Linked DNA regions of Homo sapiens: all the other regions are linked to region 1. The links come from fine-mapping of genetic effects on gene expression. A gene starts in region 1. Each other region holds a variant in brackets. All regions are shown on one strand. Distances are between the middles of the regions. Region 1 holds the start of PRKCQ (protein kinase C theta). Region 2 holds the start of LOC107984202 (a long non-coding RNA gene). Region 3 overlaps LINC02648 (long intergenic non-protein coding RNA 2648).

Evidence for each region.
Region 2: its variant is fine-mapped to the expression of PRKCQ in whole blood (INTERVAL, PIP 0.98).
Region 3: its variant is fine-mapped to the expression of PRKCQ in iPS cells (HipSci, PIP 0.95).

Annotation. Positions count from the first base shown.
Region 1 is chr10:6,575,770-6,583,943 of GRCh38, forward strand. It overlaps PRKCQ (protein kinase C theta), which reads right to left and starts at 4,507. Exons shown (of 18, transcript NM_006257.5): 1 at 4,442-4,507. It overlaps PRKCQ-AS1 (PRKCQ antisense RNA 1), which reads left to right and starts at 4,656. Exons shown (of 2, transcript NR_036503.1): 1 at 4,656-5,158; 2 at 7,907-8,174. RefSeq lists silencers at 4,509-4,758, 4,769-4,918 and an enhancer at 7,718-8,012.
Region 2 is chr10:6,484,737-6,492,920 of GRCh38, forward strand. PRKCQ (protein kinase C theta) reads right to left here. Exons shown (of 18, transcript NM_006257.5): 8 at 6,947-7,076; 9 at 1,299-1,408; 10 at 416-533. It overlaps LOC107984202 (a long non-coding RNA gene), which reads left to right and starts at 7,733. Exons shown (of 2, transcript XR_001747350.2): 1 at 7,733-7,774. The variant T/A (reference allele first, on the strand shown) is at 3,702.
Region 3 is chr10:6,626,340-6,634,523 of GRCh38, forward strand. LINC02648 (long intergenic non-protein coding RNA 2648) reads left to right here. Exons shown (of 6, transcript NR_120634.1): 5 at 591-2,038. Among named protein-coding and RNA genes, the nearest start is that of LINC02648, 12 kb to the left of the region's middle. RefSeq lists an enhancer at 3,410-3,981. The variant T/C (reference allele first, on the strand shown) is at 3,452.

The DNA.
Region 1 (8,174 bases):
GGTGGCTCACGCCTGTAATCTCAGCACTTTGGGAGGCCAAGGTGGGTGGATCATGAGGTCAAGAGATCGAGACCATCTTGGCCAACATGGTGAAACCCCATCTCTACTAAAAATACAAAAGTTAGCTGGGTGTGGCAGCGCGTGCCTATAGTCCCAGCTACTCAGGAGGCTGAGGCAGGAGAATTGCTTGAACCTGGGAGGTAGAGGTTGCAGTGAGCTGAGATCATGCCACTGCACTCCAGCCTGGCGACACAGCGAGACTCCATCTCAAAAAACACAAAACAAAAGACAGCGTTGCTGAGAATGTGGAATAATTGGGACCCTTTCTACCACTGGTGGGAATGTAAAACGGTCCAGCCACTGTGGAAAACAATATGGCAGTTCCTCAAAAAATTAAACATAGAATTACCCTACGACCCCACAATTCTACTGCTGGGTACATACCCCAAAGAATTGAAAGCAGGACCTCAAACAGATATCTGCGTGTTCCTCTTCACGGCAGCATTATTCACAATAATCAAAAGATAGAAGCAACCATCAACAGATACAAGGATAAGCAAAATGTGGTATATCCATAAATGGAATAGTATTCAGACTTAAAAAGGAAGGAAGTCCTGTCCAATGCTGTCACATGGATACAGCTTGAGAACACTATGCTAAGTGAAATAAGACAGTTACAAAAGGATGGATACTGTATTCTGCTTCTGTGAGGTCCCTAGAGCAGTCAGAATCTTAGAGACAGGAAGTAGAAGGGTGGCTGCCAGGGGCTGAGAGGAAAGACGGATGAGGAACGAATGTTCCACGAGGACAGAGTTTCAGTTTTAGGAGATGAGAAGAATCCTGTGGATGGATGATGGCAATGGTTGCAAAACAATGTGAATATACTTAATGTCACTGAACTGTACGCTAGAAAATAGTTAAGAAGTTAAATTTTAAGTTATGTGTATTTTAACCACAATAAAAAAGTTAACTGGTAGGTCACCTGGGACTGCGGTTTAAAGCAAATGCTTGATGGTTAGACTAATCTGGATGGTCCAACTAACCTGACTCTACCACTGACTGGTTATAAGACCTGGACAAGGGGCTCTACCCCTTGAGCCTCAGTTTCCTCATCTGAAAAACTGGAATAATAATAATATCTAATTTATAAAGGCTTTTGGAGGTTAAATGAAGCAGTAATGCCTCTTACATATAAATAAAATTCTGAGTATGATATACAGCACATAAATTCTAAATAATAAAGACTCAAAACCATATTTCATTGGTTTTGTTGATGCTGATTATTATTATTATAATTAATACTATTAGCTTAATTCAAAAGCTAACATCAACCTACAGCAACCTGCAGAAAGATGTCCTGCCAAATACTTGCTAATTTAATCCAGGAGCAAAAATCTATGATTCTGGGCTTGAGTGAGCTTTCCTAATTTTAAAACTCTGATGCTCATTTTGTCCCCAAGAATGTGTTTAGATGACAGAGCAATCAGAATTTGACATGTATAAATGCTTGGCATGTTAAAATAATGAAAGATATTTTCACCATTGTAAGGAAACAGCTTTTAATCCATCTCTCTGGTTCAACATCACATTTTTCTATAGTTTCTCATGACTTCTTCCTTAACAATTGGAATAGGTATGAAAAAGCTGAGCTGAACACATAGCTGCTTAGAAATGAGCTGCTTAAAGTGTTAAAACAACAGAAACAGCAAGCATGAGTTTAATGCTATGTATGCCGTCACAATACTAATTTCTCTATTTTAAATTACAGATTACACACACACATACACACACACACGGAATCACGTCTATATTGCTGGGATTTTCATTATATAACAATATATCATTTTAAATGATTTGAGGCAAATTATTGAAAAAAATTAAAGACTGAACTCCATAAAAAGGAAATCACCTGAAATCAAATATAACCTTGTTAACAAACCAGCACATTAGCAACATTTTTAGGGGCAACAACATAATCAGCAACTCTAAGACATCAATCAAATGCATTAAAAACAGGAAGTACTAACTCTAATTCCTAATTTCCAGAAAGGCAAATATACCATAATTAAATAACACGTTATAAGGAGATTTGTCTGTGTAGGTCTACTTCTGAATCCCCGAAGTTACATACTTGTACCACAAGCCCATACTCTTGAAAGAAAATTCTGGACCCAGTCCACATGGAATTTTGGTTAAAACATCTAATTCATTGCAGAGAAGAATTTAGTCTTTTCCACGGAAGAGACAGCATGTGTTAGAATGAGAATACTTTATAGAAATGACCAGTGACAAGCCGGCTATGTAAGGGGGCTTCTGATGCCTGGCGTTAACAAGAGACAGAGAGTATTATTGTTGAAAGGGATCTTTGAGATTACAGAAGGAGCTGAGGTGTGAATAATCGAACACCATCCCCTTGTTGCCTGAAGGAGAAGTGAGACAGCAAAACAAATCAAATTTCCAGGAGCTGCACCGTGTATGGTGAGCGAAGACGCAATGAGGACATGTCTGTAGGAGAACAGAGGTAGAAGTTAGCTCCTCAAGTAACAGTTGCCATCCCGAGGCACCACAGCACAAGACAGTAGCGGAAATGAACATGACAACGCGGATGGTGGGTGACAAGAGTCTTGCCTGGATATTGACATTTTTAAAGTGTAGAAGAAAATCGCAGGTCACTGAAACAAAGGCTGATGGTGCCCAGCAGGTTACTCTTGAAATCAGAAACAGAAGTTCATGAGAGGCAAGAAGACAGAAACAACAACTGAAAAACTTAGAGTGGATCGCTAACTTGCAGGAGCTGTGCAGCTTTGGCTTTGCAGGTTTTAGAAGCTCTCCCTACGCCACGTCTTTAAATATATGTATGTTCAATCAGCAGGAGGAAGGGACTAACAAGAGCCTTCTGCGGTAAGCACCTGCATCAAACAATGGCACTGATCTCAGAGGGATTTTAAACAGCTGTGCATAAACTTCAAAAGTAATTTGCAACCATATTAGTAAATGTCACTCTTCTTCCCGCTAGACACAGCACTTTTAAAAGAGATTAAGCATCCGCAGTAAGCCTGCCATTTTACAAGGGTTACCAAAGATAAGTTAGGGAAAATATGAAGATGATGATTCACAAGGTCGGGGTGTGGGGTGGGGTGGGGGACCCAGGACCTTAGGAATAGGGCTTGTCTATCACACAGCCTCGGGCAAGAAGGGCCCAGTGGGGACCATGGCTTCTAGGGAGCAAACCAAGGGAAAAGAGCAACGGAGTGGACCCTCCAGGCTTCTTGCCTCTCTCACGGAGCCTCACGAATCCCAGTGGTTTAGAATTTTCTTTGGCAAAAGAAAAGGTCAAAGAGGCCGGAGTTGACAGAAAGCATGGGCGGACTTCTCAGATCTTGTAGGTGGTTCTTAAAAGAATTCAGCAGGCTTGAGGTGTGCTCTCAAAGGGCAACTGGAACGTCAAGGACTTGGACACCAGGCACAGATGGTTCATTTCCCATGGACAGGAAGAGGGCACGGAGTGCTCCCTCTTCCCTCCACCTTCTCCAGCCTAGTCCCCCTCAGCCTGTGCCACTCCTGAATCATCTTTTATAGCACCACGTCCAGCCCGCACAGGGGCAGGACAGCCCAGGGAACAAGGCAGTCCTGTGGCGCTCTCCTTGCAGAAATGACCGGAGTCTCCCAATCCAGCCAGCCCGTGGACCTCTCTTCATGCCCACGGGGGAGTGCACACGCCTGTAGCATTCAACAGTCACTCTCCCATTGATAACGGTGGCTCTCGAAAATCCAATACCACAAAGATACTTTATTGCACAAACTTTGCTTGGTTAACCTGGCCCTCAAAGCTGGGGAATAACCTCACTTGAGGCTACAGGAATGAGCACGCAGATTTTTCTTTTTTTTTTTTTTTTGGTATCTTTCAAAGACCTGCCTCCCCCTCCCCCAGGCCCTTGACCAGAAACTTGGCTTGTTTAGAAGCCTGAGCAATGGCACCCCCGTCCGTGCTCCAATACATTCCCAGAAAAGGGGTTATGCTCCCCTGTGGACAGGATACCATCTCCAGAAAACATGTTTCCTCACGCATTTTTTTTTTTTTTTTTTACCAAGAATACAAAAACTTTCCACCTTCTTCCCTCCCCGCAGGCCCCCTTTCGTTCAGGTGAGAAGGAAAAGGGAGAAGAAAGGAGGAAGCGCCCCCAGGCCGGCGGCCCCCACCCGGCTAAGGTCGCCAGCATCCCGCATCCCGTGCGACCTGCGTCCCAGAAACCCAGCGGGGAAATTCTTCCCGGTGCGCTCTTGCGCCCGCTTGGTTCCATTTCCTACTCCGCCTGCTCACCCGGCAGCCCTCACCCCTTCCCGGAGGCTCTCCGAGGGGCCCGGGTAGCCCTTCTCGCCACGGGTCTCGGCCCCTCCAGCCCGCTCCCTCCCGGCGGCGGCGCGGGGCGCGGGGCCCTACCTGGAGCGAGCACGGCGCCGCTGCTGCCCGGTGGCGCTGGGACTGCGCGGGGACTGCGCGGGGACTGCGCGGGGACTGGCGGGGCTGGCGGGGCTGGCGGGGCTGGCGGGGCTGGCGGGCCCGGCGCACTGCGGGTGCGCCTAGAAGGCGGTGCCCGCCAGGGGGCGCTCGCCAGCCTCCCCGCCAGCCCGGCCTCCCGGGACCCGGCACCTCTAGCCAGGGACGCGCGCTCGGTCCCCCGCCGTGCGCCCCCGGTCCCGCGCCCAGGCTCCCGCCCCTGGCCTCCTTACCAGCCACTTGTCGCCCAGCTGCGAACTGGAGCGGGAGGCGGCGGCCGGAGGGCCCAGGACAGCCCCGGGAGGGCGGCGAGGCGGAGCAGGAGCGCCCCGGCTCCGGCCACATTCTCAGAGTCAGGAAAAGGGGCGAGAGGCCACATGTCTCCCTCTCGCCCAACTGAAAACGAAACGGCGCTCCAGCAGATTGGGTGGAAAGAGCTGGGTCTCTTTTCTCTGTTTTTCACGCTAGAAAGGGCTTGTAAACATTGTTCCTTTTAAAATGACCTACCCCAGGCATTTGTTTGGGCACACTTCTGTCCTGGGGTCATCGTTCCTAGGTGGCTTCGGACCTGGGACTTTTCCTGTATCTGCACATTGTCGTTTTATACACAATTGCCAAGGTGGGACTGCTTTCAACTTTACTGTGCTTGAAGCTGCAAAGGTAATGTTGCCGCCGTGCGTGTCATTTTAGGACTTTTTATGCCTTGCGGGTAATACTAATGATGGTCACAGGGAGGATAAACGGGGTGGTTTCTTTTTCTATACTCCATGTAACTAATTTCTCATTCAGGTTAGAAAATTATATGTCTGGTTACTAATATTCTTACTGAATGGTTTCCTTGCAATGATGACACCAAATAATTAAAACGTACTTGATTAAGACTTTTGTTGCTGTAGTGTACTAAGATCAGATTAATCTGAGAAGTAAAATAGTAATTTTTTGTCCTTTTTTCTTTTCTTGTTTTGAGAGAGACATTAAAAACGATTAAAACAAAACAAAACAGGCCAGGTGCGGTGGCTCATGCCTGTAATGCCAGCACTTTGGGAGGCTGAGGCGGGTGGATCGCTTGAGGCTGGGAGTTTGAGACCAGCCTGGCCAACATGGCAAAATCGTGTCTCTCCTAAAAATACAAAAATTAGCTGGGTGTTGTGGCACGTGCCAGTAATCCCAGCTACTCAGAAGGCTGAGGCAGGAGAATCGTTTGAACCTGGGAGGAGGAGGTTGCAGTGAGCTGAGATCTCACCACTGCACTGCAGTCTGGGTGACAGCAAAACTCTGCCTCAAAAAAAAAAAAGGTTTAACAAAAGCCAAAAGTTGAATTAGCAGCCTTCTGATCATGGGAATGTAGGATGTCAACTAAAAAGAACCTCAGAGGTTGGGAAGGCAGATGAAAAACTGAGGCCCCGAAGTGTTTCAAGACTTGATTAAATCACTCAGGTCTGCACTAGGAAGCGAGTTATGATGATGCCCCTAATCTATATGAACCCAAATAAAGCCAAAACACACACACCTTTTAAGGATAAAACTATATTCCATTAAAATTAGCCCCGCATTTGTCAATATCTAACAGCATTGGACTGACCCTCAGGCCAGAGGCTGTAGCTCTTGGAAGATCCTAGCCAGGAGGTTTGAGAGTGGCCAGTACCTCGGAAGTGCTGGCTCACTCTGACATCATCAGAACCTGGCATACAGTAGGCGCTCATTGGGTATTTGCTATGGAAATTAGGCAGGAAAGTGCGTCTGTGTCTGGAAACAAAGAGGCAAAGCTTAAGCAGTGATCCCCATGCAGATTCTTTCTGCAAACTACAAAACAGAAGCTTCCCTAGTTCAGACTGCCATCCATCTGGCTCTTTCTCCAATTGTTTTTCAGCGGATCCTGTTACAGTGCAAAGAAGAAATGGCAAACGGATAACAGCTACTGTGCCTAGAAGATGGTAGATTCCTCACGCTCCATATCTGGGTTTCTCATTGACAATTAGGCACTGAAAGGAAGCTCATATGTCCTGTTAATTTAATCAGTAGTTAGTGGCTTTAGAAAAAGTTTCATATATACACCAGGTATGATAAGGACTTTTTTTTTTCTTTTTGAGACAGAGTCTTGCTGTGTTGCCCAGGATGGAGTGCAGCGGCGTGATCATAGCTCACTGCAGTTTTGATCCCCCAGGACTCAAGTTATCCTCTCACCTCAGCCTCCCAAATAGCTGGGACTACAGGCACACATCACCATGACCAAGCTAATATTTAAAAAGATTTTTTTGTAGAGACGGGGTCTCACTATGTTGCCCAGGCTGGTTTAAAACTCCTGGGCTCAAGTGATGCTCCTACCTCAGCTTCCCAAAATGCTGGGATTATCGGGGTGAGCCACCATGCCCAGCCTGTGATGACTTTAGACGCACTACTCATATAATATTCATAATCTGATGTGATATGTATCATCATCATTATCATCTCTCTTTAACAGAAGAGACTAACAAGGCTTAGAAAGGTTATGTACCTCGCTCAAGATCCCACAATTACTAAAGTACCAGAACCAAGATTCAAACCCAGGTCAGGCTGGAGCCACCATCTCAAGAGCTGCTGAATAATTAATTCTCCTTTTTTTTTTTTTTTTTTGAGATGGAGTCTTGTTCTGTCACCCAGGCTGGAGTGCAGTGGCACAATCTTGGCTCACTGCAACCTCTGCCTTCTGGATTCAAGTGATTCTTCCTGCCTCAGCCTCCTGAGTAGCTGGGATTACAGGCATGTGCCTGCCACCATGCTCAGTTAATTTTTGTATTGTTAGTAGAGACGGGTTTCACCATGTTGGCCAGGGTGGTCTCGAACTCCTGACATCAGGTGATCCGCCCACCTCAGCCTCCGAAAGTGCTGGGATTACAGGCATAAGCCACTGCGCCCAGCCAATTCTCCATTCTTACATCGTACACTCAGTTTTCTCTTTCTTTCTCTTTTGGACAACTGATCTTTGAGGACTCTTGGCTACTCAATTGTCCTATAATCGTATAGTCCTACAACAGGAAACCCGTTAACCTGAAGATCAGATCTTTTAAAACAACATCCATCATATATCTACAAAATTGGGATTTTTTTATCGTAAAATTTCATCTAAAACAAAAAATTCACATCTGTTCTTGGTATCCATTAGGTGTAGTGGACACCTCTAGATATTCTTGATGCCAGCATCCTGTAGACCCGCCATCTCCTTTCCCAGGCCATGGGGTGTTTCTGTTTTCTATTAGACACTGTCTCTTAGTTATATAAACGTGGCTGCTCTCAGAAGTTCTCCACACCTTTGTTTCCTGGAAGAGGAAATGGCATTTCCTGGAGGGGATGACACGTGGGCGGTGAGGTTCCACTCACTACGTTAAACACACCCTAACTTTCAGCTGTGTACTTCTTTTCCTCTTTCAGGTTCTGCCCTGATGTTTCCTGGAATAATGCTGAGGACTGCCTTTCGGGTAGCCGCCCTATTCAGTTCACTTCATCTCGGAAATACCTGACCCCTGCCTTGGATCCAGCGGCCCTCCTGAGAGCTGAGGAAGGAGGAAATCCTATGTGTCTGCTCCCGGAGCTGCCACAACCCATCTTCCCACAACTCGGAACTTGGAAAAAGGAACCCAGGACACGACTTTGCTTTTCTTTTGGACCTAGTTGGTGATTATACTCTGTCTCCCATGGA
Region 2 (8,184 bases), 91 kb before region 1:
CTGCCATAATGTCATGAAAGTGGCTTTGAGTCCTTCTCTTTCCTACCCTTAAATTTAAGTCTCAAAGGTGCAGAGTAAGAATGTCTTCTGTGGCCTTCCCACCATCAAATTTTAAGACAGATTTATTTCTGTGAAACCATTTGACACTGACAGAATGTAACATGCTGAAACTCTAAGAAAACATTTGTGGTTGTTCCCTCCAGACCTATCCCATTTTCTAACCCCCACCTCCTGCCTTTTACAAAGGTAAAAGGTTTTAGTTTCTTTTCTAAGAAGTGGGAGCCTCTTAGTTGGTAGCTGGAGGTGGATCACCTATCAGACCAGGTAAGCTGATAACTTAAATCCAAGGGCATTAGGTTAGGGTTAATTGAGATTAATGACTGACAGTGATTAGACTGCTGATCAGGACAGCTACCTCTTTTTCCCGGTGTCGGTAAACATGGCGGCCTTGCTTCATTTTTGATGGAGCATGGGAGACCAATTTCAACCGGACCTTCTCTGAAGATCTGTTCAGTATCTCTTAAGCAGCGAGCCTGGATGACAAACAGAGAGTCAGACCACCCACCCACCCACCATTGATGGAACAGCTCAGCCTGCTAACGATGGGGACAAAGGCCATTTAAAATGTTTAAATGCATAGGGTCAACAAAGATCTCCTTATCCTCAACGTTCTTTTGGAACCCCATATTCTGGGAGAGTCTATCTACTGTATTTTATGCATTAGCCGAACACGTTTGCCTCCTTCACACTTTTCTGGGGCTGACAGGATTCTCTCATGCTGTCTACATCATTCCATCACAAATAAGGACAGGTAGTTAATGGATGGGAAAACAGCTGATACAGGCAATGCCAAGTCTTAAAGAGGGTTTATCCTTGGATCTAGGAATTCAGCTAATGCCAAAACAGTAAACAGCAGGCCAAATTTGCCCTGGACTCGGTGTTCCATGAGGATGATGCTAGCACATAAGTGTTTTCCCCCAGGCTATTCTATAACCCGAATATATTCACATAAAGCTGTCAATGAATCTTCAATAACTTTAATGAATTTATTTGTTTCTGCAATGCTCATGCCATGAAGAATTTAAGATTTTATAAAGATCTGCATAATACAAATGCATTAAATAAATATCTCAAAGATAGGGGGTGTGGGCATGGATATGAAAGCCAAGGGCAAGGCCGGTGCTCAGAAATACATCCCGGCATTTCCCATAGGGCTGCCACAGGTGAAGCAGCAGAAGTGCATGGACATCCTTGCTGAGCGGCCATGGCGGGAACGTGTCCACGGCACATGCTCCTACCTGTTGAGTGCTCTCAATCATGGCCAGCGCTTCAGCCATTAGCTTCTGGTTTATGCCACAAAGGTTGGCCACCTTTGTCTGGCATCTATGATGCACATTCATGCCACATGCTGGAAGGAAGAAGGCAGATAGTGAGCAAGAGTGGAAGAACCCCCTGGTGCTAAACAACTCTCTCTGGAGGTAAGACAGAGCCTTGCGGATAGGGAGGAAAGCCTAAAGTGCCACGGCTGGGAGGAAGTTGACCCTGGCTCTCCCTGGTAGTGATCCTCGTGCTGGAAGGGAAGTGAGGTAGGAGGTGGGACTCAACTCTGGAGGTGGGGTTCAGACGCCAGACCAAATTGAAGACTAGCTAAAACAGGGACAGGGCAGAAGCAGCTTTCCAGAAGATGCCCACCTGCGTGCCATGTCAGTTTAGTGTTGCCATGGCAACACCCAGACGTTACCACCCTTTTTCCAGGAACTTAATTTGCATGTAGTTAAAAGTGGTATAAATAGGATTGCAGCACTGCCCTGAGCTGCTACTCTCTGCCTCTGGGGTAGCCCTGCTCTGCAGGAGCAGTCATGGAGCTGTAACACCAACAGAACTGTAATACCGTTGGCCAATGAAGCTGTTTTCTTCTACCAACAGCCGACCCTTGAATTCTTCCTGGGCGAAGCCAAGAACTCTCCTGGGCTAAGCCCCACTTTGGGGCTCACCTGCCCTGCATCAGAAGAATATTCCTGCCCACTCCAGTCTGGGTCCAAAACATCCCCTTTCCCACCTGGGCCATGAAGAGCTTCCCCCAGCCTTTAGGTTGAAGCCCAGGAGGCAGCCTCAGCCTGCAGATGGATATCAGACGGTGGAGCCGGAGTGTATATGTGGGAAGGGATGGAGTAGGAGGAGGCTAGCAATGCCAGGAGAGGTCACGGCAGAACACACCTAGCAAGACTGGACCAGGCATGAGGACCTCAGCTTTGAAAAAAAAATCACAAACTCTACACACGGTGTGGAAACATAAAGCCACAGGCTTCACCAGTGTGGGCTTAGATGAGGAGGCCAACAGCAACCGGGTGTTTGAGCACATTCCCCAGTTTCCAGGCCCCTGTACCCATGCCTCCTGAAAACCTCGTGTGATTATGGGAAGGGTAGAGGGCCCCAAGGATTACTAGATGAGAATGTTAACTAAGTGGATCTCACAGTCATAAAGAAAGTGATATTTCTTGCACGCATGAACTGATGGCGTAAATTGACATCTACAACCTGTTATGAAAGGTAACTCGAAGAAAAAGAACCAAAGTTTTCTGTCATCTTTATAAGTCACATAAGATGTTAAAGAAAAAGAAAGAGGAGAGGGAAATACTCGAGCACCTGTCAGGTGGGTGGAGAACGGGGTGCTGGTGGCAGCTTGCACAGCGTGGACACTGTGTGACCTTGGGCAAGTCATGAACGCTCTGGGGGCTCCCGATTAAGGATCTCCAGCACTGGACTCATGATCTATACAGGATTCTAGCTTGGGGATCCTACAATTCAGGGTGAGTATTCTGATTCATGAATCTTGAAAACAGTAGCATAGAATCTAACTTCCATTGCCAGTGACCAAGAGATCCCTCTTGGACTGGAGAGCGTGTGCCCATGTGACTGTGTAAAGACAATTATTAGTTTTAGAAATTCAAATTTTGCTAATGAAACATCACCATTAAAGGCCAGGCGTGGTGGCTCACACCTGTAATCCCAGCACTTTGGGAGGCCGAGGCGGGCAGATCACCTGAGGTCAGGAGTTTGAGAGCAGCCTGGCCAACATGGTGAAACCTCATCTCTACTAAAAATAATAACAATAAAAATTAGCCAGGTGTGGTGGTGCACATCTGTAATCCCAGCTACTCAGGAGGCTGAGGCAGAAGAATCACTTCAACTTGGGAGGCGGAGGTTGCAGTGAGCTGAGATCGTGCCACTGTACTCCAGCCTGGGAGACAGAGCGAGACTGTGTCTCAAAAAAAAAAAAAAAAAGAAACATCACCATTAAAATACAGAAAAATCAGATATAAAGATTTCCAAACTCCAGCTGACAGAGTCTGTGAGTAGAGAGTGTTGTAATAGAAGCAGGCACCAGGTGCTATGACATCATGCAGTCTTAATCTTATCTGCTGATTTGCACATGTGTGTGCAAAGAAGCTTAGCACAATGACTGGCATCGAGCAGGCGCTCAACAAATACAACTTCCTTTTCATCTTCATCATTTATTGCATAGATGTAGATATTAAAATATTTAGGTGAAATTTGGGCAACCCTCACCTGTAGTTTTCACTGGTCCACTCTTCTTCAAATAGCTCAATAATAAAATAAAGCAGAATTTTCTATGTAAATAACTATTACTTTTTTTTTTTTTTTTGACATGGAGTCTCGCTGTGTCACCCAGGCTGGAG[T/A]GCAGTGGCACGATTTTGGCTCACTGCAACCTCGGCCTCCCGGATTCAAGAGATTCTCCTGCCTCAGCCTCCTGAGTAGCTGGGATTACAGGCGCCCATCACCACACCCAGCTAATTTTTGTTTTTAGTAGAGACAGGGTTTCGCCATGTTGGCCAGGCTGGTCTCCAACTTCTGACCTCAAGTGATCTGCCCACCTCGGTCTCCTAAAGTGCTGAGATTACAGGTGTGAGCCACCGCGCCCGGTCAACTATTAACCATTACTAGACCGAGTATATAGGCATAGATATAGCCAGAAAAATTCACCTGAAGCAAAATCTTTTCTGCATATTTAAAATCTTTGTTGTTGTGTTGTTGTTCTTGAGACAGGGTCTTGCTCTGTTGCCCAGGCTGGAGTGCAGTGGTGCAATCATAGCTCACTGCAGCCTCAAACCCCTGGGTTCAAGCCATCCTCTTGCCTCAGCCTCTTGTGTAGCTGAGACCACAGGCGTGCACACCACTACACCCGACTAATTTTTTTATTTTTCGTAGAGATGGGGGTCTCACTTTGTTGCCCAGGCTGGTCTCAAACTCCTGGGCTCAAGCCATCCTTCCGCATTGCCCTCCCAAAGTGCTGGGATTACAGGTCTGTTACCGTGCCCGGCCTAAAATCTTTACTATAGAAAGGATTTTTTTTTTTCATGATTGTGCTCCAAATTCCACATTGTCGGCAAAACTCGCATAACTCACATTCGCCCTATTTAGAAGGTGTCAGGTTTCAACTTCGGTAGCCCCAGCTCCATTTTCTTATGCATCACCGTGACACCAAGTGAGGTTGTCAGCTAGGATTGAACATAGAGGGATGGAGTTTTACTTTGCTCCTTAAAACTGTAGCCACATCTAGGCTTCTCTGTGACTTGCATGGCCGCGAAGAAAGGCCACCACCATCTCCACGAGAAGGTCCTAAGTCTTTGTTACTAACCTATCAGGCCGTAACTCAGTTTCTTGGAGGGCAAAGAGTCCCTTTGGATGACTATTTTCTTGGGAATTATTGTGGGGAGAAAGAGAAGGCAGGGTAAAAGGCTAAGGAGGCCCTACTTAAGACGACGGCCTGCAAGGAGGCAGGATGAAAGGGAGGCAGAGAGGGAGGGAAGAGAGCTGGAGAAGAGGGCGAGAAGAGTCGAGAAAGGAGGACGCGGGGGCATGCGGGGTGAGCGGAGCAGGCGGGGTGAGCACAGTGGAGGGGCAGGGACCCGGGAGTGTCAGAAGCAAGAATGGAAAACAAACCAGGGCAGGGGAGGGAGAGGAGAGGGGACAAAAGAAAAAGGGGAGGGGAGCACTTGAAATGTAGGTGGTAGGAGAGAGCGGGGAACAGAATGGAGCGGAAAGGAAAGAGTATTCAAGGAAAGAAATGAAACGAAGCAGGCAGAAGAGCCATGAAATAACGCCCAGGAACCCCTGGGAAGTTCTAAGCTGTGCCGCGGCGCTGCTGGGACCAGCTCTTCTTGCAAGTGGATTCTCGGGCTCCCAGGACAGAGAACCCGACCTGAGACCATCACAGGAGAACCAAGAGGCGAGAATTTCTCCTGTTTCTGTGGATACCGTCAGGATGCAGGATGCCGGGACACTACGTTTTGTCTCTGACCTCCTAATGAACTCTTAATACCCTGCCTATCCATGTCTTCTTGAACAGGGGTGTAGAGAAAAGCGTGTCAGTGTCCTTTGGGGCCAGGAACGGATTCTTGAGGCTAATGTTGGCCTCCTGTGATGTCTGCTTTAGGTAATGATTTGAAAACCTAACCCCTCCTGCCTCCACTGAGAGGTCGCTCTGGGTTCCACCAGACATGTGAACAGGATTGGGATGAAGAAGGGGAGAATGCGGAAGATGCTGTGCCGCCTTCCATCACGTACCTCATTGCTCAAAAGAGAGGACATACATTAGTCAGTAGCACTGATCAAAATAGGGCTGCCAAGAAAAAATAAAGTGGCTTATATATTTAATACTTCATCATAAGAAAAGGTCTGTGCTCACCAGGCATGGTGACTCACTCCTGTAATCCTAGCACTTTTGGAGGCTGAGGAGACAAGATCGCTTGAACCCAGGAGTTTGAGACCAGCCTGGGCAACATAGCAAGACCATACCTCTAAAAAAAAAAAAAAACAAAGAAAAACAAAAAAAACAAAAACAGGCATGGTAGCACATGCCCATGGTCCCAGCTACTTGAGAGGCTGAGGTGGGAGGATTGCTTGAGTCCAAGAAGTCAAGTCTGCAGTGAGCTGTGATCGAGCCACTGCACACCAGTCTCCAGTCTGGGCAACAAAGTGAGACCCTGTCTCAGAAAAAAAGTAAAAGAAGAAGAAAAAAATCAGAAGCTGTCTGTATGCAACAGGTGGTTCTCCTTTTGTGGCTCTATTCTCTGGGCTCTGCCCACGTCTCTCCCCAACCAGAAAGCAGAGTGCCTTGTCAGTTCTTGAGGGTTTTTTTTTTTCTTCCCTAGTCCTTAATCCTAGTGTAACAGCATCTCAGCTTCTAAACGTTATCGCCTTAGCAACTTGGAGTTGTACAGCAAGAAAGCCTTGCCTTGTTTCCTTTTTTGATGGTAGGTCTGAGAAACTCCATCAATAATGAATGGCAGGTTAGGCTCTGCTGCGATCCTGGCCTTGGAGGAAAGACCAGAAAACAGGCAATGACGGTCACAACCGGGCCAGCCTCTTACTGGGCACTTGGAGTTCACAGCAATGGTTTAGGGATGGATGCTCAAGCTAATGTTACAGAATTTCTGTGCAGGACCATGTGTCAGCCAAATGAATGTGCTGGGCTTGCTCCTTGATGAGATGACAGAAAGAATCTTACTGGCTGGTGCAAAGGAGAAGGGTTAGGGTACCACACAGCTAGACCTGTTGGGATTAGGAAGGGGCAGCCCAGAGCCCACTGAGGAAACTAGTAGTAGAAAGACCAGTGAGAGGAGAAACACTGTCTTCATTTCCCCCAGGGCTATGGTACGGCAGAAGGTGATGGAGCTAGGAGTTTGACCTTGAACCTGAACTGTTGTGCTCTTTTCTGGGATGTGTGGGTGGGGGTGTTGCAGGGTGCAAGGAAAGGAACATAGTGGCTTATTGCCCCAGAAGACCATACTTATGATCATGACTTGTCTGGGCTGGGTGTGGAAGTGGTACCCCCTACATCCTCCCTCCAGTTCCCCAGAAAGCCTTGCTCCATCCCCTAGGGGGTCCACGTCGGGCCATGCTCATCCCCCACTGGACTCACCATCACACTTGAGTCCTTGCCGTGCCAGTCCCCACAGCAGGGTCCCACAGTGTTCACAGAAGGTCGGGCTCTTGTAATTGTAGACTTTAAATCTGTGTGGCATGTCAATTTTGAATCTCTCCTTGTGGAACTGAAAGAAAGGCAGAAGGTGAAATCTGTGTATTCCTGGGGCCCCGACTTTGGATGTTCTTGCAGATACCTTAGCATAACTAACAGAGATCATAATGAAAACACTGGCATTGTGTGCATTTTAAACCATCATTGTCACTTGTCAAGCCCTACAGTCATGCCTGAAGAAGGCAGGCAGCCTCAGCAACTGTACGTGACGGGGCATGCTTGCCTTCTGCATGTAGCAAGAACCTTGCAGACAGCTGAAATCTGAGGCATTCACACAGACAGGCTAAAAGCTCAGGAAGACTGCATGAGGGTTATTTTAAAAAGTGCTAAGGAAACAGTGCTCCCATTTAAATAGATGAAGATTCCCTTCCTGTTTTACTATAAATATTTCCTTTTCTCTTTCAGTCCAGAACTAGTGCTTTTAACCTTTGGAAGATGTAAAAAAAAAAAAAAAAAATGCCTTCTTTAAAGGAAACATTTCTATGGGTTTATCAGTATTACTGCCTAATGTGAGAAGCATTTTCACACCTATTATTCATGAACTGAGGTGGCAAGAGGAGGGAGCAGTTCCTGCCAGGTGCGGTTAACAAATATGTCACACGCATCATCTATTACATAGGTGATATCTCACGTAATCCTCAGAATACCCCTTTTGAAGTCGCTTCTATTAGTATCCTCCTTTGACAGACGAGGAAATGAAGCACAGAGAAGGTAAGAAACTTGCCCAGGACACGCAGCTCTAGAGCTGGGATATCTATAAGCTTGGCAGTCAGAATCAGAGCCCAGCCATTCTCTTTTCTGTCTCAAAATAAATGTGAAGGCTTATCGGGGTAGGGAGAGGGGAGTGGGAGAGGGATGCTAGTGATCGACATGGAATTTTTTTAAAAAACAGTTTTCCAGAGTTTAAATCAAACTTATTGCAGGAACAACAAAACACTTGGATAGTTGGATTCCTGGTAAGAATGTGAATATTCTTGTGCAGGATAAAATGCTTTATTTTCTAAAGGTTTATAATCTCTGCAGAAGTTTCTAATTCAACAGTTCCTTTGGGAAGGTGCATAGCAAAGATGCCTTATTCATCAGCACAGCAATAGATCTAACGTTCCCGCCAGGGGTACTGG
Region 3 (8,184 bases), 51 kb after region 1:
TTGTGGACACGGGAAATATGAAGGAAAGCACAGACAGAGACCCTCTGCCCTCACGGAGTCCTCATTCTAGCAGAAAGAGACAAGCAATAAACAAAGCAAAGAAGTATGTTATCCATTGCGTTTGAGGGTAATTATGGGGAAAAGAAAAAGCAGAGTTAGAGGAATGACACCCGTAAGAGGGAATGGCAAGGGTTGCAACATTAAACTGGGTGGCAGAGGGGGTATGCTATGATGAGTGTATACGGAACCATTATATGGAGGAAATACACAACCGCTCAGGCATAATTTTTTATCCATTTTTTTGATAACTTATAAACCAGGGAAAAATAAGATATGCACTGTTTTATTTACTATATACAAGAAATCAGGTTTAGGTATGTTGAATCAATGCAACTTTACAGAAATATTACGTACATTCTTTATGGAAACAAAATAATTTGAAGTATGTTTTCCCACTTATCAACATCCTGTAAAATTTGGAAACGGTGATCACTGCTTTTTATACTGCAGAAAAGGAGGAAGATATGTAATTGGTCTGTATTTGTTTATTTACTGTAACTTTAATTGATTGTTATATTTTTCTGCCACAGATGCTGGACCGTGACACGAATGTGGCCATTTCCACTGTCACCAAGCTCCCCTAGGTCTCCATCAGCTTCAGTGACCTGGGCTCTTTCACTTCTCAGAGATGCTCATCTGTGCATCTCCTGTCAGTTCTCGCTCTTTTTTTTGAGATGGAATCTCACTCTGTCGCCCAGGCTGGAATGAAGTGGCACGATCTTGGCTCACTGCAATCTTCACCTCCCAGGTTCAAGTGATTCTCCTGCCTCAGCCTTTCAAGTAGCTGGGATTACAGGCGTGCACCACCATGCCTGGCTACTTTTTGTAATTTTAGTAGAGATAAGGTTTCACCACGTTGGCCAGGCTGGTCTCGAACTCCTGATCTTAAGTGATCTGCCCGCCTTGGCTTCCCAAAGTGCTGGGATTACAGGCATAAGCCACTGTACCCGCCTCCTGTCAGTTCTCTTAAAATAGCCGAGTGATCTTTCCTTCCCATTCATCTGCTATCTGTCTGCTGGCTCTTTCTTGCCAATAAAGACTCATTTTCTCCTATCTAGACTTCTCTGGCATGAGGAATGAGCCAATTTAATGCATGTCTTAGGTGGGAGTGTGGTGAGTTGCGGAAAGGAGGTTTGGGGAGCTGGATTCTCTGTGAAAACGTGTAGCAAGGAGAAAGGTCACTGGGGAGATTATCATCTGCAAGGCATGAGAGGCTGTTCTATTGTCATTCACATGTCATCAGCCCAGTTATTAATACTTTCCTTCCTCTACCCCCTTGTCGTTGTTAAGGAGTTCCTTGGAAAAAACAAGTACTTTCCCTCCCCTGGTTGGTGTCTCTGTGTCTTCAAGATACTGCCTATTTTTTTGAGGTTTCAACACAAACAGATCTAGTCATGGCAAAATGGTGACATTAATTCTGACTTCCCAGCTTCAACACTCTTCCCCTAAGAGGCAGAGAATCCTAGCACAGTAAGGGGTCTTAATGTTCTGGTCAACCCTTCTTGCCCACACTAGTCATGGAAGTCTTTGTTGAAATGCCCCCAGTGAAAGGAGGTTCATTTCCACCCAAGGTAGCTCATTCAATTTTGCCACAACTGTGTGTGTGTGTGCGTGTGTGTAAATGTGTGGGTGCATGTGTGTATGTGTGTGTTGGTCCATGTGTGTGTGGCTTCCTCCACCCATTAATTGTAATTCTAGCAGTTGGGGCCATGAAGAAAAATGCAACAACTCTTCTGGGCAGGAGGCTTTTAGATGACTGAGTACTCTTTTGACATGTTTCTTTATTTCTTTACCATCGATCTCTTTCCTCCAGGATTAGCATAATCAGTTCTTGTTTTTTTTTTTTTGTTTTTTTTTTTTTATTTCTCTGAGAGGGACTCTTGGTCTATCAGCCAGGCTGGAGTGCCGTGGTGTGATCTGGGCTCACTGCAACCTCTGCCTCCCAGGATCAAGCGATTCTCCTGCCTCAGCCTCCCAAGTAAGTGGGATTACAGGCATGTGCCACCACGCCTGGTTAATTTTTGTATTTTTATTAGAGATGGGGTTTCACCATGTTGGCCAGGCTAATCTCAGACTCCTGATTTCAAGTGATCTGCCCACCTCAGCCTCCCAAAGTGCTGGGATTACAGGCGTGAGCCACCACACCTGGCCATTGCTTTTGTCTTCTTGCAGCTATCAGTGTGTACTCCAATGCTTCATAAATTTGAGTAAAATGCAGATTCCTTAAAATAAATCACAATATTATGCTCTCTCTCTCTCTTCCCCTCTCTTTCTATATATATATATATATATATATATATATATATATATATATATATATATATCTGATTACTGACTGAATTAGTTTTTATTATTTAAACCTAAGATTTAAAACCCTTCTGTTCATAGTCCTTAAACATGAAACTTAAAAATTAAGATTAAGTGTAGAATTAGCAATTTAACAGGACAGATTAAAATGTGTTTTACTGAAGCCAAATTATTTTCAATGTGAAGATACTACTACTATCATATAGCATGCATTTACATTGTTTATTGATTCCTTGTTATAACCCAATTCTCCTACCATTTGTTCTGTATATAAAATGAGGATACAAAATGTATTGTCTCCTCAAAGGGTTAGTGTGAGACTTGCACGAAATCATGCATATCAAGCACAATGCTTATTGCAGGATAATGGTCAAAAATGGCAGATATTATTACTATAATTGTTATTGCTGGTGCTACGTTATCATTGGTGCTTTGTCTGCTTGCAGATTCGAATGGAATACAATAAAACCTTGCTGACAAACATCTTTCAAGTTTAGGTCTAGTTTCCAGTCCCCATCATGACTTTTAAAATTTGCTCTGAAAATTCCTGGTCATGACTCTTTCTAAATTAAACAGACTTTCAAGTTGCATATTAAAACGTGGGTCACCTCAGGGCAAGCTAGAAAGCCAGGGAGGAGTTATAATGATGTATAAAGGACATTCCATGTTGCATCTTCCTCTACTTCTCTGAAAGAGCTCAAAATTAATGTTCAGAATCAAGAAAATACTACGGACCTGTCTTCAATATCGTGGCTGCCCCAAGATAGATAAAGTTTTGATTTTCTTTGTCTTTGAATGTAATACATGGTAGTTCCTTGAAGGTTAATGAACTGCTCACAGAGTTTTGGTATAATAAATCTTTACACAAACTTTCATGCGCGTCCGTGTGAAGAGACCACCAAACAGGCTTTGTGTGAGCAACATGGCTGTTTATTTCACCTGGGTGCAGGCAGGCTGAGTCCGAAAAGAGAGTCAGTGAAGGGAGATAGGGGTGGGGCCGTTTTATAGGATTTGGGTAGGTAAAGGAAAATTACAGTCAAAGGGGGTTTGTTCTCTGGCGGGCAGGAGTGGGGGTCGCAAGGTG[T/C]TCAGTGGGGGTGCTTTTTGAGCCAGGATGAGCCAGGAAAAGGACTTTCACAAGGTAATGTCATCACTTAAGGCAAGGACTGGCCATTTGCACTTCTTTTGCGGTGGAATGTCATCAGTTAAGGTGGGGCAGGGCATATTCACTTCTTTTGTGATTCTTCAGTTACTTCAGGCCATCTGGGCATATACGTGCAAGTCACAGGGGATGTGATGGCTTGGCTTGGGCTCAGAGGCCTGACATTCCTGCCTTCTGATATTAATAAGAAAAATAAAACAAAATAATGTTGAAGTGTTGGGGCAGCGAAAATTTTTGGGGGGTGGTATGGAGAGAGAATGGGCGATGTTTCTGAGGGCTGTTTCAAGCGGGATTAGGGGTGGCTTGGGAACCTAGAGTGGGAGAGATTAAGCTGAAGGGAGGTCTTGTGGTAAGGGGTGATATTGTGGGGATGTTAGAAGAAACATTTGTCATATAGAATGATTGGTGATGGCCTAGATACGGTTTTGGATGAATTGAGAAACTAAATGGAATAACAGAAGGAGAAAAACAGGTATAAAATGTCTAAGAATTGGGATGACTCAGGATATCTGATTAGAGAGTGCCTAAGGAGATTCAGCATAGTCCTGCCAGCAAAGATTATTTATTTACTTCAAGAGTTAAGAGTGGCAGTTTGGGGATAGCACCAGGAGATATCAGCTGTGATGGCTTGGAAAAACAGTGTAAACCAGCAGTGTAAACAAGAGCAGGGCATGTATGAGTAGTTGAGAACGGTGAATAGGAGTATGACTAGACAGAAGATAGTAGGGATGACAAGTTTTTTGGGGCACAGTCCAAGTTGGTCTGGTGTCTGGAATGAGACTGGGGCCTAATAAAAAGGAGCGTCTATACAAGAGCTTAAATGGGCTGTACCCTGTAGCATTCTAAGGACAGGCCTGAATTCTGAGAAGGGAAAGTGGTAAAAGTATTGTCCAGTCCTTTTTAAGTTGGTGGCTGAGCTTGGTGAGGTGTGTTTTTAATAGACCATTAGTCCTTTCTACTTTTCTTGAAGATGGAGGACCGTAAGGGATATAAAGGTTTCACTGAATACTAAGAGCCTGAAAAACTGCTTGGCTCATTTGACTAATGAAGGCTCATCTGTTATCAGACTGTATTGAGGTGGGAAGGCTAAACTGAGGAATTATGTCTGACAGAATGGAAGAAATGACTGCGGTGGCCTTCTCAGACCCTGTAGGAAAGGCTTGTACCTATCCAGTGAAAGTGTCTACCTAGACCAAGAGATATGTTAGTTTTCTGACTCAGGGCATGTGGAGTAAAGCTAATTTGCCAGTCCTGGGTGGGGCAATTCCTCGAGCTTGATGTGTGGGGAAGGGAGGAGGCCTGAATAATCCCTGAGGAGTAGTAGAATAGCAGATGGAACACTGAGAAGTTATTTCCTTGAGGATAGATTTCCACGATGGAAAAGAAATGAGAGGTTCTAAGAGGTGGGCTAGTGGCTTGTACTATAGCAAAACCTGCCTTTGCTGGTGTGTGGCGATTAGGCCTGGTGGAACCGCCATCAATAAATCAAGCATGATCAGGGTGAGGAATAGGAAAGAAGGAAATTTGGGGAAACGGGGTGAATGTCAGGTGGATCAGAGAGATAGTCATGGGGGTCAGGTGTGGTATCAGGAATAATGTGGGAGGCCGGATTGAAGTCTGGGCCAGGAACAATGGTAATTGTGGGAGGCTCAACAAAGTGTGAGTATAGCTGAAGGAGCCAGGAAGCAGAAAGTATATCCATCAGGTATGAGGAAGAAAATAGATTTTGGAAGTTAGGAGAACTGTAGAGAATGAGTTGAGCACAGTTTGTGATTTTGAGGGCCTCTAAAAGTACTAAAGCAGTGGCAGCCGCTGCATGCAGACATGAGGGCTAGGCTAAAACAGTAAGGTCAAGTTGTTTGGACAGAAAGCCTACAGGGTGTTGTCCTGGCTCTTGTGTAAGAATTCTGACCGCGCTAACCATGCCTAGGAAGGAAAGGAGTTGTCGTTTTGTAGAAGGTGCTTGGGTTTGAGAGATCAGTCGGACACGATTGGCAGGGAGAGCACGTGTGTTTTTATGAGAATTATGCAGAGATAGGTAACAGATGAGGAAGAAATTTGGGCTTGATTGAAGTAATGGGGGCTGTCTGTGAACCTTTGCAGCAGTACAGCCTAGGTAATTTGCTGAGCTTGATGGGTGTCAGGGTCAGTCCAAATGAAAGTGAAGAGAGGCTGGGATGAAGGGTGCAAAGGAATAGTAAAGAAAGCATGTTTGAGATCTAGAACAGAATAATGGGTTGTAGAGGCAGGTATTGAGGATAGGAGAGTATATGGGTTTGGCGCCATGGGGTGGATAGGCAAAACAATTTGGTTGATAAGGCGCAGATCCTGAACTAAATTGTAAGGCTTGTCTGGTTTTAGGACAGGTAAAATGGGGGAATTGTAAGGAGAGTTTATAGGTTTTAAAAGGCCATGCTTTAGCAGGCGAGTGATAACAGGCTTTAATCTTTTTAAAGCGTGCTGTGGGATGGGATATTGGCGTTGAGTGGGGTAAGGGTGATTAGGTTTTAATGAGATGGTAAGGGGTGCATGACCGGTCGCCAAGGAGGGAGTAGAGATATCTTATACTTGTGGGTTAAGGTGGGGGGATACAAGAGGAGGACACAAAGGAGGCTTTGGATTGGGAAGAAGGGCGGCAATGAGACATAGCTGTAGTCCAGGAATAGTCAGGGAAGCAGATAATTTAGTTAAAGTGTCTCAGCCTAATAAGGGAGCTGGGCAGGTGGGGATAACTAAAAAGGAGTGCTTAAAAGAGTATTGTCTAAGTTGGCACCAGAGTTGGGGAGTTTTAAGAGGTTTAGAAGCCTGGCCGTCAATATCCACAACAGTTATGGAGGCAAGGGAAACAGGCCCTTGAAAAGAAGGTAATGTGGCGTGGGTGGCCTCCGTATTGATTAAGAAGGGGACGGGCTTACCTTCCACTGTGAGAGTTACCGGAAGCTCGGCGTCCGTGATGGTCTAGGGGGCTTCCGAGGCGATCCGGCAGCGTCAGTCTTCAGCCGCTAAGCCGAGAAGATCTGCGAAGGAGTCAGAGAGCCTTGGGCCAGAGTTCCAGGGCCTCTGGGAGTGGCTGCCAGGTGAGTTGAACAGTCCAATTTTCAGTGGGGTCCCACACAGATGGGACACAGGTTAGGAGGAATCCCGGGCTGCGGGCATTCCTTGGCCCAGTGGCCAGATTTCCGGCACATGTAGCAAGCTCCTGTGGGAGGAGGTTCTGGAGGAACGCCTGGCCGCTGTGGTTCAGGCGTTTGGAAGTTCTTGGGTGCTGGAGATGTGGCTGGGGTTTGTCTCACAGTGGAGGCAAGGAATTGCAACTTTTTTCTATTATTGTACACCTTGAAGGCGAGGTTCATTAAATCCTGTTGTGGGGTTTGAGGGCTGGAATTTAATTTTTGGAGTTTTATTTAGTGTCGGGAGCAGATTGGGTAATAAAATGTATATTGAGAATAAGACGGCCTTTTGACCTTTTAGGGTCTAGGGCTGTAAAGTGTCTCAGGGTTGCTGCCAAAGGAGTCATGAACTGGGCTGGGTTTTTATATTTGATGAAAAAGATCCTAAACGCTTCTGATTTGGGATAAAGAAAAAGGAGCATTAACCTTGACTATGCCTTTAGCTCCAGCCACCGTTTTAAGAGTAAATTGCTGGGCAGGAGGGGGAGGGCTAGTCACTGAACGAAACTGTAAGCCGGACCAGGTGTGAGGAGGGGAGGTGATGAAAGGATTACAGGGTGGAGGAGCAGAGGCTGAGGAAGAATTGGGACCTAGCTCGGCCTGGCAAGGAGCAGCCTGGGGAGGAAGGGAGAGGTCAGATGGGTCTGTAGAAAAGGAAGATTAGAAAGACTCAGTGACGCTTGGGGTTGGTACTGAGGGGACAGGCGGGAGGGAAAGAAGGAAGATTTGGGACGAGTTGCAATGGGCACAGACTAGGAAGGGACTGATGTGTAAAAGAATACCTGGACATCAGGCACCTCAGACCATTTGCCTATTTTACAACAAGAATTATTTAGATCTTGCAGGATGGAAAAATTCAAAGTGCCATTTTCTGGCTATTTGGAACTACTGTCGAGTTTGTATTGGGGTCAAGAGACATTGCAGAAGAAAATAAGGCATTTAGGTTTTAGGTCAGGTGTGAGTTGAGGTTTTAAGTTTTTGAGAACACAGGCCAAGGGAGTAGAAGGAGGAATGGAGGGTGGAAGTTTCCCATAGTGAAGGAAGCAAGCCTAGAGAAAAGAGAGAGTAGAGAAATGGAAGGAAGGGGTTCAGGGGTTCTTACCTTCCAGAAAAGTGGGAAAAGGGGTTGGGGCTCAGAGATAAGAGGTCAGGGCACGGAAATAAGGGATGGGGCGCAGAAATAAGAGGTCGGGGCGTGGAAATAAGGGATTGGGGTGCAGAGATATGAGGTTGGGGCATGGAAATAAGGGATTGGGGTGCAGAGATATGAGGTTGGGGCATGGAAATAAGGGATTGGGGCACAGAGATATGAGGTTGGGGTACTTGCCCCTCCTCTAGAAAAGCGGGACTTGCCACTAAGAGTGAAGGAGAAGGGGTTGAGTGGTACTTGCCCCTCCCCCAGAAAAGCGGGACTTGTCGCTAAGGGTGAAGGAGAAGGGGTTGAGGGGTACTTGCCCCTCTCCAAGAAAAGCTGAGAAGGGGTAGAGA